Regions from separate parts of the Homo sapiens genome. Here region 2 is linked to region 1. The links come from fine-mapping of genetic effects on gene expression. A gene starts in region 1. The other region holds a variant in brackets. All regions are shown on one strand. Distances are from middle to middle.

Region 1 (8,499 bases):
GCCTTCAAGATGCTTCTTAATCTAGTTCTTAGTAAGAACCTCTCTCTCCTGGCTTCCCACCATTCACATAACTTTGCCCTACTTTAGCTCTTTCACAACTAAACCATGTCATTAATTTTGAATGTTCTCTGTTTAGTACATATGCATCTCATCCTCCCAATCAGGATATAAGGAACTCTCTGGCATAAGTCTTCTATTAATTCATTGTATATTTCCATAACACCTACCATTCTGTTATCCTTGCTTTCAATCATCCATGTTGATTGTGAATGAAATTTTACAAAACATGTAGTTTAAATTATCCCTCTTAGTCAGTAAGGTATGAGAGAGATAGATTTAGGGCAAATGTAACTTTGCCACAGTCCCTGAAAAAAAAAAAAAGATCTGGGGGCCGGGCACGGTGGCTCATGCCTGTAATCCCAGCACTGATAGGCCGAGGTGGGAGGATTTCTTGAGCCCAGGAGTTGGAGACCAGCCTGGGCGATACAGTGAGACCCTGTTTCTACAAGAAAAAATTTAAAATAGCTAGGTGTCGTGGTGTATGCCTGTGGTCACAGCTACTGAGGAAGCTGAGGTGGAAGGATCGCTTGAGCCCAGGAGTTTGAGGCTGCAGCGATGCAGTGAGCACGCCACAGCACTCCAGCCTAGGCAACACAGCGAGACACTGTCTCAGAAAAAAAAGAAAGAAAGAAAGAAAGATGGGACAAATTCTACTTTTCCATAACATGTCTCCTGATTCACTTAGAAAACTTCCTTTCTCTTTTTGACTTTTTTTTTTTTTTTTTGAGATGGAGTCTCACTCTGTCACCCAGACTGGAGTGCAGTGGCGCAACCTTGGCTCACTGCAACCTCTGCCTTCTGGGTTCAAGCAATTCTCCTGCCTCAGCCTCACGAGTAGCTGGGACTACAGGCATGCGCCACGACGCCCGGCTAATTTTTTGTATTTTTTAGTAGAGACGAGGTTTCACCGTGTTAGCCAGGATGGTCTTGATCTCCTGACCTCGTGATCCGCCCGCCTTGGCCTCCCAAAGTGCTGGGATTACAGGTGTGAGCCACCGCACCCGGCCCTTTTTTTGCCTTTTAGTTCTCTTTTTTTCTGCAGTGTTGACATTGGACACCAGATCCCTGAAATCTACACAGAAAATGCCATTTCTATTTTTGCATTTGGTCTTGAAAACACTTGAATCACGATCATCCACTGAGAAACTTCTCCAGAAGAGGAAAGGGCAGTTCCTCAGCACATCTGTGACTCAACAGCAACTCGGGAGGGGAAGCAGAATGGATTTTGTCCCCTGTTATCATCTTAAAGGGGAAATTTGTTTCTAGCTTAAGTTGGGGTAGAATAGTGCCTATTAACTCTACAAGGATTCTCATGTTTTGCAAAAATATCCCAATTTCTCTGAAATCACATATTTGGAATCTCTTTTCATCACAGAACACCAGAATTGCCATTCTAGTTACTGTAATGCCACCATGGGGAGCTTTGAGATTATTCTCCCATTGAAGTACCATCCATAAGGTTGTGGACAAATCAGTAGTAACATATACCCACAGAAATTGTACTTATTATACCTGAACACTCCCATTTCTTCATAATCTTAGAAAAAGATGTTAAAGGAAGAGACAAAAACATCAGTATATAGGAAAATACCCTCTACCCTTGAATACCTGAACCTGGAGATCGAGACCATCCTGGTTAACACGGTGAAACCCCGTCTCTACTAAAAATACAAAAAAAATTAGCAGGGCGTGGTGGTGGGCGCCTGTAGTCCCAGCTACTCGGGAGGCTGAGGCAGGAGAATGGCGTGAACCCGGGAGGCGGAGCTTGCAGTGAGCCGAGATCGCGCCACTGCACTCCAGCCTGGGCCACAGAGCGAGACTCCGTCTGAACAAAAAAAAAGAATACCTGAACCTATATTGGGAAGGGCGAGCCAGGCTGAGGCAGGAAGGATGTTTAATTGTGCTTGTGTGCCTGTGGGCGTGCGCATCTGTGTATAAGTCAGAACCTTCCTAGAGGGGGAAAATGCTTAATTCTGTCAGTCAAATTGGTGAACGGGCTATTTATAGACCTTAAACTGGCATGTGCTATACATACTGAATACTTGGCTGTTCTCATTTCTTTTGAACAATTGAGATAAAGTAAAGGAGAGGCAAAAAAAATGTCATGAGAAAAAGTAAAGAGAGATTCAGATCATGACTACAATTTTTCTTATAACATTATCTTTCTTATAACTGTAGATGGCCTGGAAAACTTCCCAGAGTCAGGGAATCACATAAAATAGGATTCCAGGGTGTAGGAGGAGTTGGTGGGGGTGGGGGGGGGATGGGATTTCATTTTAGAGACTGAAGAGAGCTTGGTCACTGAAGTTCTGGGTGTAGAGGTGAAGAGGATTATCTGAATACTGCACTGATTTTATTTGATTTCAAGAGTGCTCTCCAGTGTCACTATTGCTCAGATGCCAAAATATCTCTGAGCTATTGCATAGAACATGGCGTCAGCCAGAGAAACTGGTTCAGGGGCACCAGGACACAACGAGCTCTCATAAAGGAACTCTGGAGAGATGACAAAGAAGCATATCTATGCCTGACCGTCCTGCACTCCTTTTTCTGGGAAGAAAGTAAAGCCCCCTACCAAAGATAGCAGAACAATCTCTCACTCTGAAGTGAGGGCAGGAATAGTGAGCTATTGCCTGCCATCCATCTCCAAGGCTTCTCTGGAAAGAGGATGTGCTGTCTAGAGACGAAGCTGTATTTGGGACTCCTGCCCTGCAAAGTACATTCAGGGGGTTTGAGTGGCCTGCACTGGCACTCTTGGGGCCACCCAGGTTCCCCACCTTCAGCACCTCCCAGCTAGGACACATATTTTACCCATCAGTTCCTCCTCAACTCCATATTCTACACATTCTAGTTACTCCTGATTCCCTCTGAGAGCTTCACCGGGTCCTCCGTGGCTGTTAAGAAACAGGTGGACCCCACCAGGCAACTGGAGAAACTGCAAACTCTCCACTTACCGAGAGGCACAATCTGTCCCCTCTTTTCTTCCATAACTTCCCCATCTGTGAAATGGGAATAACAGCCCTGTCACAGCTACTTCACACAGTAAAAGTGCTGCATAAGGTGGAAAACGCTAAAATAAAAAGGCAGGGCATTGCTCTTGCTATTTTTAATACCTATCCCATAGTTTCATTTAACATAAAACTGCAAAATAGCTACCAAATATACCTTAAAAGCCCATCCCCAGCCTGGGAATAATAGCTGCATACAAACTTGTTCAGGTCCCTCAGTCCCTCCTTAAACCTATTGAACTAGAACCTCCAAGTGTCGAGACCAGGACCTGTATTTTTAAGGAGTTCCCAGGCAATGCTAATCATCAGCCGGGTTTCTGACCACGATTTGCTCCATTCTATGAACACTGGGCAGAATCTTTGCCTGGTTTGGAGGAAGAGATGTATGATGTATTTCCTATGCCTCTCAAACTTGACCAGTGGAGGTGAGTTACAGCTCAGGTGACTGACAATCCTTTTCTAAGGAATAGGAAGAACAATAATGCTTTCGAAGGGTTAAGATCTCACAGGAGGACCACCAGAGGGGAGAGGAGGGGTCCGCGGGAAGGAATGGAACTCACCTACGATGATACCACAGGCACTGACCAATCCGATCTCTTTCTTCAGGGCTACTCCGCCCCCTCCGGAACCAGCCTCGGGGCTGGCGTCCGACTCGCCCCCACCTGGGTGTTTCTTTTCGGTGTTGTTTCGGTGCCTGGCTCCTTCTTCCATCCTTCTCAGTAGGATTGCAACCTCAAAAGCTGCCTCCCTTTCTAAATGCGTATTCGTGTAAATATATTGGGAGAGAGCTTTGAATTAGAACGTCCTTTTCCGAAATAGGAACCACTGCTACTCTCTAAAAAAGGCAAGCAGATAAAAGAGAACACGAAAAATATTCCTACTCCGCATTCACACTTTCTGGTCACTCGCGTTTACAAACAAGAAAAGTGTTGCTAAAAAAAAAAAAAAAAAAAAAGGCCAGGGGAGACATACATTTAAATATAAAAATAGAACTGTGCCAGCGACTCCGGCTGGAATTCTGCTGAAAGGGATGTGTCTTCAGAAACCAGGATGGTTCTGCTCTGTGCACCAGGCAGTGGCTTATTCAGAAAGTGAGCCTGGATTTCCCTTCACCTCTCCCCCTAATAAAACAGGAGACTGCCTTTACCTCCCCTTAGTTTTTTCTTTTATGATGAAGACAAAAGTAGTTTTCATTAACGGTAGGAAAAAAGAGCAATCCTCAGGTACTTTCTTCTCTTCTAGAAAAACAAACTGTGAACCTGACGGTGTTGCTCTAGATCTGGTTTCCACCTGCTTTGGGTTTCTTTTCCCTTCCCCGTCTTCTGCTTCCGCCTTTCCCAGGTGTCCTCTTCTTTCTCGCTGGTCTTCGTGCCCTTGTTTTCCTCTTTTCGATCCCCGTTCTACTGCACAGCCGGCCCCATCCCTCTGGTTTCGGGAGAGTGGCTTCTCCACACACTAACGTGCTTCTCTTTAGCGAGGGGTTTTATTCGCCCGCCGAGGCTCCGCCCCTGCCTCCTCTGCTCCCCTCCATCCTCAGTCCCGTCTCCTCCCTCCTCTGCAATTTAAGTATTAGCACAAAGCCCCCAAACAGCACTGAGAAAATGGACTAAGTTATTTCTTTTTGCAATCGTCTCTCGCTTTCTCCATCTTTCTCCTTGCAACCAAGTGGAAGTAAACTCCTTCCACGTCAACTGTTCCGGGAGAGCTCATTAGCTAGTATAATGTTACAGGTCATACAGCATCTGTGAGCTTTATAAATCAGGGAACAGTTGTGCCGATACTTTTAATGCCATCAGAAATAAACTAGCCAATGTATTAAAAAATATTTAGGACTGGATCCTGTATTTGAGAATACAGGAGAGAACGTTGAAAGGACATCATCTTCGAGTTTCCTAAAAATAGGGGGAATCGACGGGTGGGGGAGGGAAATGGAAGGAATTAACAATGGGAAAAAGGTTCTTTTAGCGTAATTGTGAGCTACGAAGAGTACAGAGGAAACAAAATCGCCAGGCGCGGTGGCTCACGCCTGTAATCCCAGCGCTTTGGGAGGCTGACAGGGGAGGATCACGTGAGCCCAGGAGTCTGAGACCAGCCTGTGCAACAGAGCGAGACCCCGTCTACTAAAAATTTTAAAATTAGCCGGGTGCAGTGGTGCAGGCCTGTAGTCTTAGCTACTCAGGAGGCTGAGGCTGGAGGATTGCTTGAGCTCAGGAGGTCAAGGCTGCAGTGAGCTATGATGACGCCACTGCACTCCAGCCTGGGAGGTAGAGCAAGACCCTGTCTCAAAAACAAAACAAAACAAAAAGCCAGAAAAACCACATGCACATACAAAAAGATAAAAAACAAAATCACCAGGTAGCCTTGTTGTTCACAGCTCTTATTTAGGACTGGCTGAAACATGAAAAAAAATGACTCAAACCCTGATCCTGCAACTTCTAATATTTTTGCATTTATAAACTATTTGAAAAGCACACATGGGGAATTATCAGTATATCGCTGATCATGAAACATACTTGTTGATGTTAGAATAACTAGCTTATTACCATATCGAAATGATGCCTCCACTTTCTTGAAGAATTTCACTCAGAAACTGCTGCCTTAAGGTGAGAGCAACAATGTCTATTTATAATTGTAAATTATTTCGAAAAAACAGCATGAAGCAATATAGTGGACAACACTATAAGTCTAAAATAAAGTTATTTTTAGCCTTATTAAATATATTATGCAAAATTATTTAATTTTAAAGTGGGCCTAAAAAATTAAGTTCCCCCAAACTGACCCCTAACTACAAAAATTTGGCCTCACTTTCTGGAAAATGTTCCAAAAGATTTTGGGTTTTAAGGAAAATAAATACTTAATTCCTTAAAATGAGGTTTGTTGAGCTATCATAGCAAAAGCTTTTTCAAATGGGGTAAAGTCCAATCAGCAGTCATCTGCCCCCTTGATCACTCAGCAAGTATTAAGAGGTTTCAAAGGTTGGGAGGAACTTCCTCTCCTCCTTTTGCTAGTTCAAGACACAGCAAATTGAAAGACTCAGCAAAAAAAAAACAACAAACAACAACAAAAAAAACCAGACAAGGCAGGGAATATATAGCACGAAACTCCATGGGAGGGAATGAGTCATGGGAAATGAAAAAATGTCGAATTTGCCTCTAGCCTTTCCTGACAACCTTAGAAAGCACTGAGGAAAAATTTGATAGATTCATTTGTATACATTCAGATTTGAAGACTTCTGCTCCGATTTCAACATCACCATATAAAACAAATAATGTTTCTGCTTCTTAAACGTGAGTTCTTTCAGTAATATTTGGTAGTTCTAATTTATATGATGCAGACTTAATGTGGGATAAAACATGAATGTGATGAATTTGAGGTCTCTTGCTAAAACCAGTGCAAACTGATAACGATATGGTAAGCTTTAGCCCTCTCAAATTATGAACTAAGAAGCTAAGGGGGTTATGGGATCAAATACGTTCTTGGAATACAGCGGTACTAGGTGCACACGTTGGAAAGGAAGAGTTGCTGAAGATTAGTATTTCTATTTCTTTAGCACTTGGAATTTATAAGTGGCTTATTACCATTGATTACTGGTGCGATGTAATATCTAGGAAAGGGGCTGGGCACGGTGGCTCATGCCTGTAATTCCAGCACTTTGGGAGGCCGAAGCAGGTGGAGTGCTTGAACTCAGGAGTTCAAGACCAGACTGGGCAATGTGGTGAAACCCCATCTCTACAAAAAATACAAAAATTAGCTGGGTGTGGTGGCTCACGCCTGTAATCCCAGCTACTCAGGAGGCTGAGGTGGGAGGATCGTGTGAGCCATGGAGGTTGAGGCTGCAATGAGCCAAGATCGCACCACTGCACTCCAGCCTGGGTGGCAAAGTGAGACCCTGTCTTTAAAAAAACCAAACCAAAACAAACAAACAAACAAAGCTAGGAAAGGAATCTCCCCACTTTCAAAGGGAGCATTATTTATATTAAGTGCCTCTCTGTAGGTTGGAATCTTTTTGTGACATAAACTCTTAAGTGTGTCAAAATTCCAGGTGACTAACATTGAACACAAGAGAGAAAGAAAAGCCTTGGTGTAATATGTTGACAAAAATCTGTAAAAAATTACAAACTAATGTTTATTAAATTTTGAGCATTTTTTTTTTTTTTGAGAAGGAGTCTCGCTCTGCTGCTCTGGCCGGACTGCAGTGGTGCGATCTCGGCTCTCGGCTCACTGCAACCTCTGGCTCCTAGGTTCAAGTGATTCTCCTGCCTCAGCCTCCTAAGTAGCTGGGATTACAGGCACCTGCCACCATGCCTGGCTAATTTTTGTGTTTTTAGTAGAGACGGGGTTTCACCCTGTTGGTTAGGCTCGTCTTGAACTCCTAACCTTGTGATCCACCCGCCTCGGCCTCCCAAAGTGCTGGGATTACTCTATTCTGCATTTGCCTTTATATTTTTATTCTATTCTCTACGTTTAAATAGTGCTTTATAGCCCACAAATGGTTTTCTGAACAATATCTCAATTTTTTTCCTCCTCATGTAGTATCTTGGGCAGACGAGGCAGTTATCTTAAAGATTTTAAAAATTAGAAACCTGAGGCTTAAAGAAATATTTTACCTGAGGTAAAAAACAAGACAGTCTATTTGAGGGCAAATGGGAGATTGATAGTTTACACTGAGCACTTTTTCAGGATGCTATAGCTACTGGTCAAAGCCTCAATTTCTTTCACCTGAGGGAAACTCTGTGTTTTTGCTTTGGTGTCTTAACTGTGCCTTTTAGAGACTCACCTTGATCCTAACACTTATCTGCTCAGTGAGACCCACAGGACTTCACCTGGGCCCCCCCAACATTTGTCACCCCCTTCGCACAGTCCTCAGTGTGGCCATATCCCAAGTACGTAGTACAATTCTGTTTCCAATATCGGAGCCACTGTTTCAGCTGTTTTGCGTGCTTCAGATCAGAAGAAATTGATCCCTTTAACTAGGGAAAATTATGGATGAAAGGCCGTTTTCTTACAAATATGGATTTAGAAAGAGAAAGGCTGTGCGTAGCTGACACCTACTGGACAGAAAAGGTTATGGCTTGGGACATGCTGCTTGTGATAGTTAAAACACAAACACACACAACCCCCACGCAGTCATGTTCTAATATTCCCCTACTCCCCCCTTTTTTAGAGACAAGGTCTCACTCTGTCACCCAGGCTGGAGTGTAGTGGCACAATCACAGCTCACAGCAGCCTCAAACTCCTGGGCTCAAGTGATCCTCCCGCCTCAGCCTCCCGAGTAGCTGGGACTACAGATGTGCGCCACCACACCCGGGTTAATATTCCCTTTCAGAGACAAGTTAGACGTGTCTGCTAATGCAAAGGAATAGAGCACAAAGCTCATGCACTCCATTCCTGATTTTTTTTTCTAGATCCAATAGACAGCACTTTATTCTTGCTT
Region 2 (8,499 bases), 33 kb before region 1:
CCAACCTAAGTCACTCTAAACAACTGGGTCTGTGATCTCAGCTTCTTCCCTAGGCCCCAAGGCATGCAAGGTACAAGGCTGCGCCCCTTCACCCAGGAATTCAGGCAGACACAGCAGTAACTCAAGGATAAAGGAGATTGATAAAAGGAAGGAAGGAAGATTAGGAAACAAACCCCATAAGCCTCAGGGATAGGTAAGGATTACACAACAAGGAACTGGATCTTGATCTCAGGGAAGAAAATCCTTCTCCAAGGGGAGGAGAGGGGAGGGCGAGGAAATGACAGAAAGTGCTTGAGGAAAATAAGGGCAGAGCAGGACAACTCAAAGAAATTCCTCCTCCCCCAAGCAGACCACCTCCCTGTGTGCTGGGAAAGAAAACATGAAATCATCTCTTTACAAGATGGACCTTACTGAGTCACAGAAAGACACCTTCAAACTATCAGCTCTGTGGTCTTCCTGGGGTAACAGAGATAGGGATGCTTTGTAAAATAACCTATCTGTGGCTATCTTCTGTCTTGCCTAACCTTATCTCCATCACTTCCCAAGAACTCAGCCCTTGACTAATATTTAACCTTTCACCTTCACAGTAATCTTTCAGAAACAAGAAGAAATTCTGAGAATGAGGTGGGGATAGGCAGGCTGCCTGTGACACCTAATCTCCTTGGAACAATGGCTGCAGGCCCCAGATCTGGCCCTTCACCCTGCAGTTGGGTGATCATACCATGTGACTGAGGGGAAAGAGGGTATCAGTCTCCTGGTACCACAAGACAGCTTCCCTCACAGCAGGCTGAAACCTGAGCCTCCACCCAGAGAGGAAAGGTCAGTGGGTGCTCGCCAAGCTCCTGCCCCGGTCAGGAGCCCTGCTGCTGGCTAGCTACTGCTTGGCACTTGTCTGTTGCGGACGATGATATTCTAGAACCCTCTCTTCTCGGCTAGACCCTGAATTCCGCATTCCTGAGACACAGTGACCTCAGGGAAGCCACATGTAGATGAGGATCATTGGCCATAGCAGCTTTGAAATGTGAGGGGCTTTTTATCCATCCATCCATCCATCCATCCATCATAGATCCATTCACCCATCCACCCATCTAGCCATCATCCATGCATCCATCCACCCACCCATCTATCCATCTATCATCCATCCATCCACCCACCCATCCAACCATCCATCATCTATCCATCCATCCATCTGTCTATCCATCCACCCATCTACTCATCCGTCATTCATGCAGGGCCTACATGTACTAGGCATTCTAGCTGGTGGGGAGGTTATTGATAAGACACAAGTCCCTGCCTTTAGGAAGTTGGCAGTATAACAGGGACGACGGGTGAAGTAAGAGATGCCCACAAAACAACGAGGTGATGGCAAAGCTATTCACGGAAGCTAGTGGGCATCTATGAGGAACCACTAACTCAGCCCAGGGGAATCAGAGATGCCTTCTATAGGAGGAGGAGACCCTGGCAACATGGAGAAATTTATAATCCTGGTCCAACTGGACAAAATAAAAAGTCATAAGACTGGTTCTTGTCCGTTGTAACCTAGTTGCGGGAGTGGTTACTGCTTCTTTAGAGGCCCTCATGGAATTCCAGGCTTGTATGTATTTTTTGGGCATTTCCTCCCCTCTTTCTTTCTTGCTTCCTGGGTAAAAAATAAGATGAAAGACTATTAAGAAGACAAGAGTTCAAGAAGATGCTGAAGTCAGGGGCTGGTTACTTAATCCACCCAGTTTGAAGAACTCAACATCAAGGTGACAGAAGAGATACAAATAATGAGTCAGGCAGGAGGAGGAAAACTCAGATTCTAGCAACCTGGAACACTGCCCAGAGTCCAGGGCCTCCCAGCTGCCAAGCAGGAGAGATGGGCTCAATGCTTTCTGCAGGACTGGCAGAGGGATTCAGAGTCCTCGCTGCAGACCTGCAACTGGCTTGCTCACTGTGGAGGGCTGGGTTCCCTACAGAGAAGGTGCCCTCAGCCCCATCCCAGCTCTGATCCCAGACTTTGATCTCCAGGAATTACAGAAGTCTCTCCTTCACTTCCTCCCCTTGGCAATGACAGCATATCTCTTTGGGATGGGGGGCAGTTGAAGGCAGAATTATGGCCATCCAAGATATCAACGTTCTAATCCCTGAGATTTGTGACTATGTTTTTTAAATGACAAAAGGAACTTTGCAAATGTGATTAAGTTAAGGATTTTTTTTTTGGAGACAGAGTTTCGCTCTTGTTGCCCAGGCTGGAGTGCAATGGCGCAGTCTCAGCTCTCTGCAACCTCTGCCTCCCATGTTAAAACGATTCTCCTGCCTCAGCCTCCCAAGTAGCTGGGATTACAGGTGTCCGCCACCACGCCTGGCTAATTTTTGTATTTTTAGTAGAGACGGGTTTCACCATGTTGGCCAGGCTGGTCTCGAATTCCTGAACTCAGGTGATCCACCCACCTCGGCCTCCCAAAGTGCTGGGATTACAGGCCTGAGCCACCGCGCCCAGCCAAGTTAAGGATCTTGAGATGGGGAGATTATCCTGGATTATCCAGAGGGACCAGTGTTGTCACAGGAGTCCTTTCAAGAGGGAGGCAAGAAGGTCAGAGTTATAAAAAGACATGTGATCATGGAAACATCAGACAGAGAGAAAGAGAGATTTGAAGATGCTACACTGCTGGCTTTGAAGATGAAAGATGGGGCCATGAGCCAAAGAATGTGGGAGGTCCCTAGAAGCTAGAAAAGGCAAGGAATTCTCCCCAGAGCCTCCTGAAGAAATTCAGGCCTGCTGACGCTAGAGTTTAGGACTTCTGACTTTCAGGACTAAGATAGTACATTTGCATAGTTTTAAACCACTAAGTTTGTGGTTACTTGTAACAGTAGCAATAGGAAATGGATACCAGACAGACATTATACAGAAAGACCAGACAGCAGGGACATACCCTTAAAGAGAAAAGCTTTTAAACAGCAGCCAGGCAACACACACCAGGAGCCCAAAAGAGTGTCTGTCCACAGGCCTTGCGGGACACCAGATGGAGGGAAGGGATGGCGCTCTCTAGAAGAGGGTAGTGAAGGTGAGGTCACTAGTGTGTTCACCTGGTTAGCAAAGTTCCACACCACATAGCCGCTTCGCACTTCTTCCAGCTTCCCAACCCTAGTTGGGATCCCACAGCTAGAGTGTTCCTATTTCCTCTTCCTCCATTTGGTAATTCAATACAGTAGCAAACAGCCTTGCCTTGTAACTCTAGCAGTGTTTTTCCTCTTTCCTTTTAGAGAAATCCAGGGCAAAAGATACAATATCCCTCCTTCATCTAATCCAGGTTCTCCCCCAGTCTCCCCTGTATTCCTTACAACTTCAGGCCCACCCACACAACCCAGATACGCAAACACTGGCCCAAGAATCACTAACTTCTTGCAAGGCGAGTGGAGTGCCAGGATGTTCACAGACATGAATCCTTTATTTTCTGCCCCCATGATTTTGTTGGTCTCCTTATTTCACTGGCCAGAAGCCACAATCAAAGGCCATAAAAGAAGTCAAGATAGAAAGCTACGAGATTATTATCCCAAGAGTCCTGAGTCTGAGTACACTCTTCACATCAGAGGGGACAGAGTGGCCCCACCGTGTACTGTCCTGTGGTAGACAACACCAAAAACACCTTGGAAGAGCTTGTCCTGTATCCTTCCGGGCTCAGTCAACCCATTTTTAACCCTAAATCAATATACAGTCATGTGCTACATAATGACATTTTGGGCAACAACAGACTATTTATACCTTGGTGGTCCCATAAGATTATAAGACCATATTTTTACTGTATCTTTTCTCTGTTTAGATATGTTTAATGCACAAATACAACTGCCTACAGTGCTCAGTACAGTAACATGCTGTATAGGTTTGTAGACTAGCAGCAACAGGTTACACCATGTAGCCTAGGTGTGTAGTAGACTATGCCACCTAGTTTCATGTCAGTACACTCTATGATGTTTGCATAATGACTAAATCATCTAAGGATACATTTCTCAGAATGTATCCCCATCATTAAGCAATGCATGACAGTATTATAGATTATAGGTAAAAGAGACAATTTAAAATTAATTTCTTTAGTGCCTTTTGAAATAGAACACCAATGAATCATTAGCATAAACAAATAAATCTTCATTTAGAAGGTTTTAAGGATGGGTTGGGGAGTCGTGGAGCTGGTTTTAAGTCCCTGCAATCGTCCAGAGCTGAGGCTGTGATCTTATCACTCTTCCCCTCAACTCTACCTAGTAGCACCTGGTAAGTGAAGGATGATGTGGGTTTCTGGAGTCTTTTTCGGGCGTGGAACAAGTGAACGGAGCTCAGAGGAGCTTGTGTAAGGTGTGAAGTGGTAAGAAT[G/T]GGGAGGAGGATCACCAGCAGCATGAAGGGAAGGAGGCAGAGTCGGCTCTCTCAGAGGGACCTGGCAGGTCTGAATCTGAGAATCACAGAACTTTTGAACTTGAGGAACTCAGCGGCCATGGTGCCCTTCCCAGCTTAGTCACGTACTCTCAGTTAACCTCTCTGAGCCTCCCTTTTCTCCATGTAAAACCTATGGTCCATTTGAATCATGTGACGATACTCTGTATCCTGTGTATTGTTGCATAAAATGTTAAATGATTATTTTTATTGTTCATCTTAAGAAACTGCAGACTAAGAAAGTCAAAAAGAGCATGTGATTTGCTCAGGATCATGCTGACACTCACAGGCAAAGCAGAGTGGCGGGGAATGGGAATGGTTTGAAGGATTTTAGAGACCATATCATGCATCAGACCACATTGTACATCGTGCCCCTGACCCTTCTCAATTTCTAATCTGTTTCATCTTTTTCTCTGGAGGATGCTCCTTCACAAATGACCTGCTCTGGGGTCCTTCAACCCAGCTGTCTGGAAGTTGGGAGTGGGTCACAGGTACAGGCTGTGGGGCTGGGGAGCACAGGCTAACGCACTGGACCAGAAGCCCAGATGGTCAAACATATTCCCGTGCCTCAGTTTCCACTAGTGAAGAAAATACCACCAGGTCTTATAAGTCACGTGCCTCTGTCTGCTAGGGAGGAACACCCTGCAGAAAGCTGAAGAGCTGTGCGGTTGCTGCCCGTGCTGCCCCACTCCTCAGGCCCCACGGAGACTGTCCACAGCCAGCGGTGCACACGCAGCCATAAACAATCCCCTGGTGGCTGGTGTGGCCTTGAGGTCCTGTCTGGCACACAGTAGGCGCTAAAGCTTACTGAATGGAAACGACAGATAGATACATCTACACAGAAAATTCAAGGAGGGTGCACATAGAAGCCACCGTGCTGCTCTAGGGAGTAAATATCAGGTTTAATATGTCATAGGATGGCCCATGAAGCAAGGCCAGCAAGTGCCCCGGATGCCAGACAGAGTTGTGGGGAGAGGGTACATATTGTGGCTGTCTCTCCTTCCTCTAGGAAAGCTCACAAAGTACAGCCAGGCACAGTCACTGACACCTGTAATCCCAGTGACAGTAGAGACTGAGGTGGGAGGATCAATTGAGGCCAGAAGTTCGAGGCCAGCCTGGGCAACACAGCAAGATCCTGTCTCTTAAAAAATAACAGAAAATTAGCCAGATGTGGTGACACATACCTGTAGTCCCAGCTACAAGGGAGGCTGGGGTGGGAGGATCACTTGAGCCCAGGAATTCAAGGCTGCAGTAAGCTGTGATTGTGCCATTGCATGCTGGCCTGGGTAACCCTGTCTCTTAAAAAAAAAAAAAAAAAAAAAAGCAAAAAGCTTGCTGGGCACAGTGGGTCATACCTGTAATCCCAGCACTTTGGGAAGCTGAGGCGGATAGATCACTTGAGTTCAGGAGTTTAAGACCAGCCTGGCCAATATAGCAAAACCCTGTCTCTATTAAAAACACAAAAATTAGCATGCCTGTAATGCCAGCTATTCGGGAGGCTGAGAATCACTTGAACCTGGGAGGCAGAGGTTGCAGTGAGCCAAGATCGTGCCACTGCACTCCAGCCTGGGTGACAGAGATTCCACCTCAAACAAAACAAAACAAAAACAAAACAAAACAAAAGCAAAGAAAAAAAAAGCTCACTAAGAGTACACGTTATTCCCAGAGAGAGACTACTTGATAACTGTTTTCTTTTTTTTGAGAGCAGTCTCATTCTGTCACCCAGGCTGGAATGCAGTGGCCTGATGTTGGCAAACTACAATCTCTGCCTCCTGGGCTCAAGCAGTCCTCCCACCTCAGCCTCCTGAGTAGCTGGGACCACAGGCATGTGCCACCACGCCCAGCTAATTTTTTGTATTTTTGGTAGAGATGGGGTTTCGCCATGTTGCCCAGGCTGGTCTTGAACTCCTGAGCTCTAGCAATCTGCCCACTTTGGCCTCTCAAAGTGCTGGGATTACAGGCATGAGCCACCAATGTTTTCTTTTTTTTGAGACAGGGTCTTACTCTGTCATCCAGGCTGGAGTGCAGTGGCATGATGATGGCTCACTGCAGTCTCAACCTCCCCAGACTCAGGTGATCCTCCCACCTCAGCCTCCTGAGTAGCTGAGGTGTGTGCCACCAGGCCCAGCTAATTTTTGTATTTTTTGTAGAGACGGGTTATGCCAGGTTGCCCAGGCTGGTCTCTAGAACTCCTGGGCTCAAGTGAGCCACCTGCCTTGGCCTCCCAAAGTGCTGCGATTACAGGCATGAGCCGCCACACCCGGTGATGTTTTCAGGTGCTCCCTTGCTTTGGATACAGGACTCTGGCTTCTCATTGAGCTGGGCCAGCAGGGGGTCATTTTGTGCCTCCCTCAGGGAGCCAATGAACATTCCCACATGGATCCCTGAACCAATCTCATTTCTTCTACTAAGCCAGCTGCCACTCGATGAGCCACACTATTCTGGTCTGACAGGGTAAAGGTTGGGATAGGGCCACCTGGATACGGGGCTGGATTGGTTGTTATAAGGACAGTGCTAAGAAGAATGAACCAGTTGGGACTCTCCTTGTAGTCAACTCTTGGCCCTAGAGGTAAATATTTGAAGCCTGCGCCCTACCACCCAAGGCTTGTGTCCAGCCTCATGGGTGATCAGAAGGCAGGAATGACCTTAGAGACCCAGAACCTCATTTTATTTTTCTTTTACAGATGGGAGTCTCATTCTGTCGCCCAGGCTGAAGTGCAGTGGCATGATCATAGCTCACTGCAGCTTCCCAGTCCTGGGCTTGAGCGATCTGCCTGACTCGGCTTCCCAAAGTGCTAGGATTACAGTTGTGAGCCACCATGGCGGCCCCAGAACCTCATTTTATATGTGAGTGAATTTAGACCCCAGCTAATTCGCAGCAAAGACCAGACTGGGACAGCCCAATTCCCAGTTGCTTGTTCTGCCTCTGCCCCGCCTTCCTTCATTATACACAGATCACTCTGCTTTCCCTTGGCCGCTCCCACATCATCTCTCCTCCTGCTTGGGTCAGTGGTACCCATGGTCACTACTGCCAGTGCCACTTGGGACTCTGGGTCTGTCACCAAGACACTGGTTAGCCCCAGCCTGGACTGCTTTCTGTGCAGCAGGAAGGAAGATGCCAATATGGCAAAAGGGGAAGACTTTCACAGTTATGCCTCAGAAACCAAGAAAGGTGCATCCATTGCTCCCAGGGCTTTAGAAAGTCATTTCCCACAGGGATCTCCACCTTGGGTCCCCTCCCACCAGCCCCCTTAATCAATGTCACAGTCACATGTTCCCTCCAAACTCCCGGAACTCCATTTGGATTTCTCGGTCTCGCTGGCTTGCACCTTTCTCAGGAGTGGACTGGACTGGCTTGGAAAGGCTTGGTTTTCCTTTAACATTTCCAGAACCAGGCCACTCCTCCTTGTCTGTTCAGATAAGTGAAAACAGGCAGTAGAAAGGGGGAAAAATGTCCAGACTTGCCAAAGTCCATAAAGACAGATGGTGAAGAAGAGAGGGAAAGAGCACAAGAAACCACAGGGCGGGAGAGAGCAAGGGGAGGACAATGCAGATGAGTGGGAGAGAAAAAGGGCTTGAGAGGAGCAGAACAGAGAGAGGCCAGGACTGAAAACAGCAAGATGGAATGTACTAAGCAGACGGTTGCTGAAAAAGGAAGCAGTGACGCCACTTTGTAGAAATCAGAACGCCCTGTTCCTCTCCAAACCTGCAAAACAGGCACCTTTCTGGATGGAGCTCCCCAGCCCTCTGAAACGCCATAAATTTCACCTGGGTCATGGCCTGCCAGAAGGGTTGGCTTCTCAGCCTCACCTTTTGCTGGGGCGTTCACTTCTCTGCCTTCTGCCACGCTCTGGCCAGCTCCCACAGACTCCCTCCCCTCCAGCTGGAGCAAAAGGGGTGAGGCATGTCCCTCCCAGCAGCCCTCTGGGTCTGGGTGCCCAGGCTGGAGGTTGGAGCCGCTGGGCAGGGAAGCCGGGCCTGTGGGGGCGTGGGTGTGGCTACGCTCGGCTCTGTGATTGGCTGCACCGAGTTCCTTGGCCGCCTCCCCCGCTTGTGGAAGGAACTGAGCACGTGTTTCTAATTGTGGAAAAGCC

Evidence for each region.
Region 2: its variant is fine-mapped to the expression of SLC7A8 in whole blood (INTERVAL, PIP above 0.99).

Annotation. Positions count from the first base shown.
Region 1 is chr14:23,179,139-23,187,637 of GRCh38, forward strand. It overlaps SLC7A8 (solute carrier family 7 member 8), which reads right to left and starts at 4,522. Exons shown (of 11, transcript NM_012244.4): 1 at 3,626-4,522. The coding sequence starts at 3,776. It also overlaps a transcript of RNF212B not described here.
Region 2 is chr14:23,146,044-23,154,542 of GRCh38, forward strand. All of the region lies in intron 3 of SLC7A8 (solute carrier family 7 member 8), which reads right to left. Among named protein-coding and RNA genes, the nearest start is that of CEBPE, 31 kb to the left of the region's middle. The variant G/T (reference allele first, on the strand shown) is at 4,349.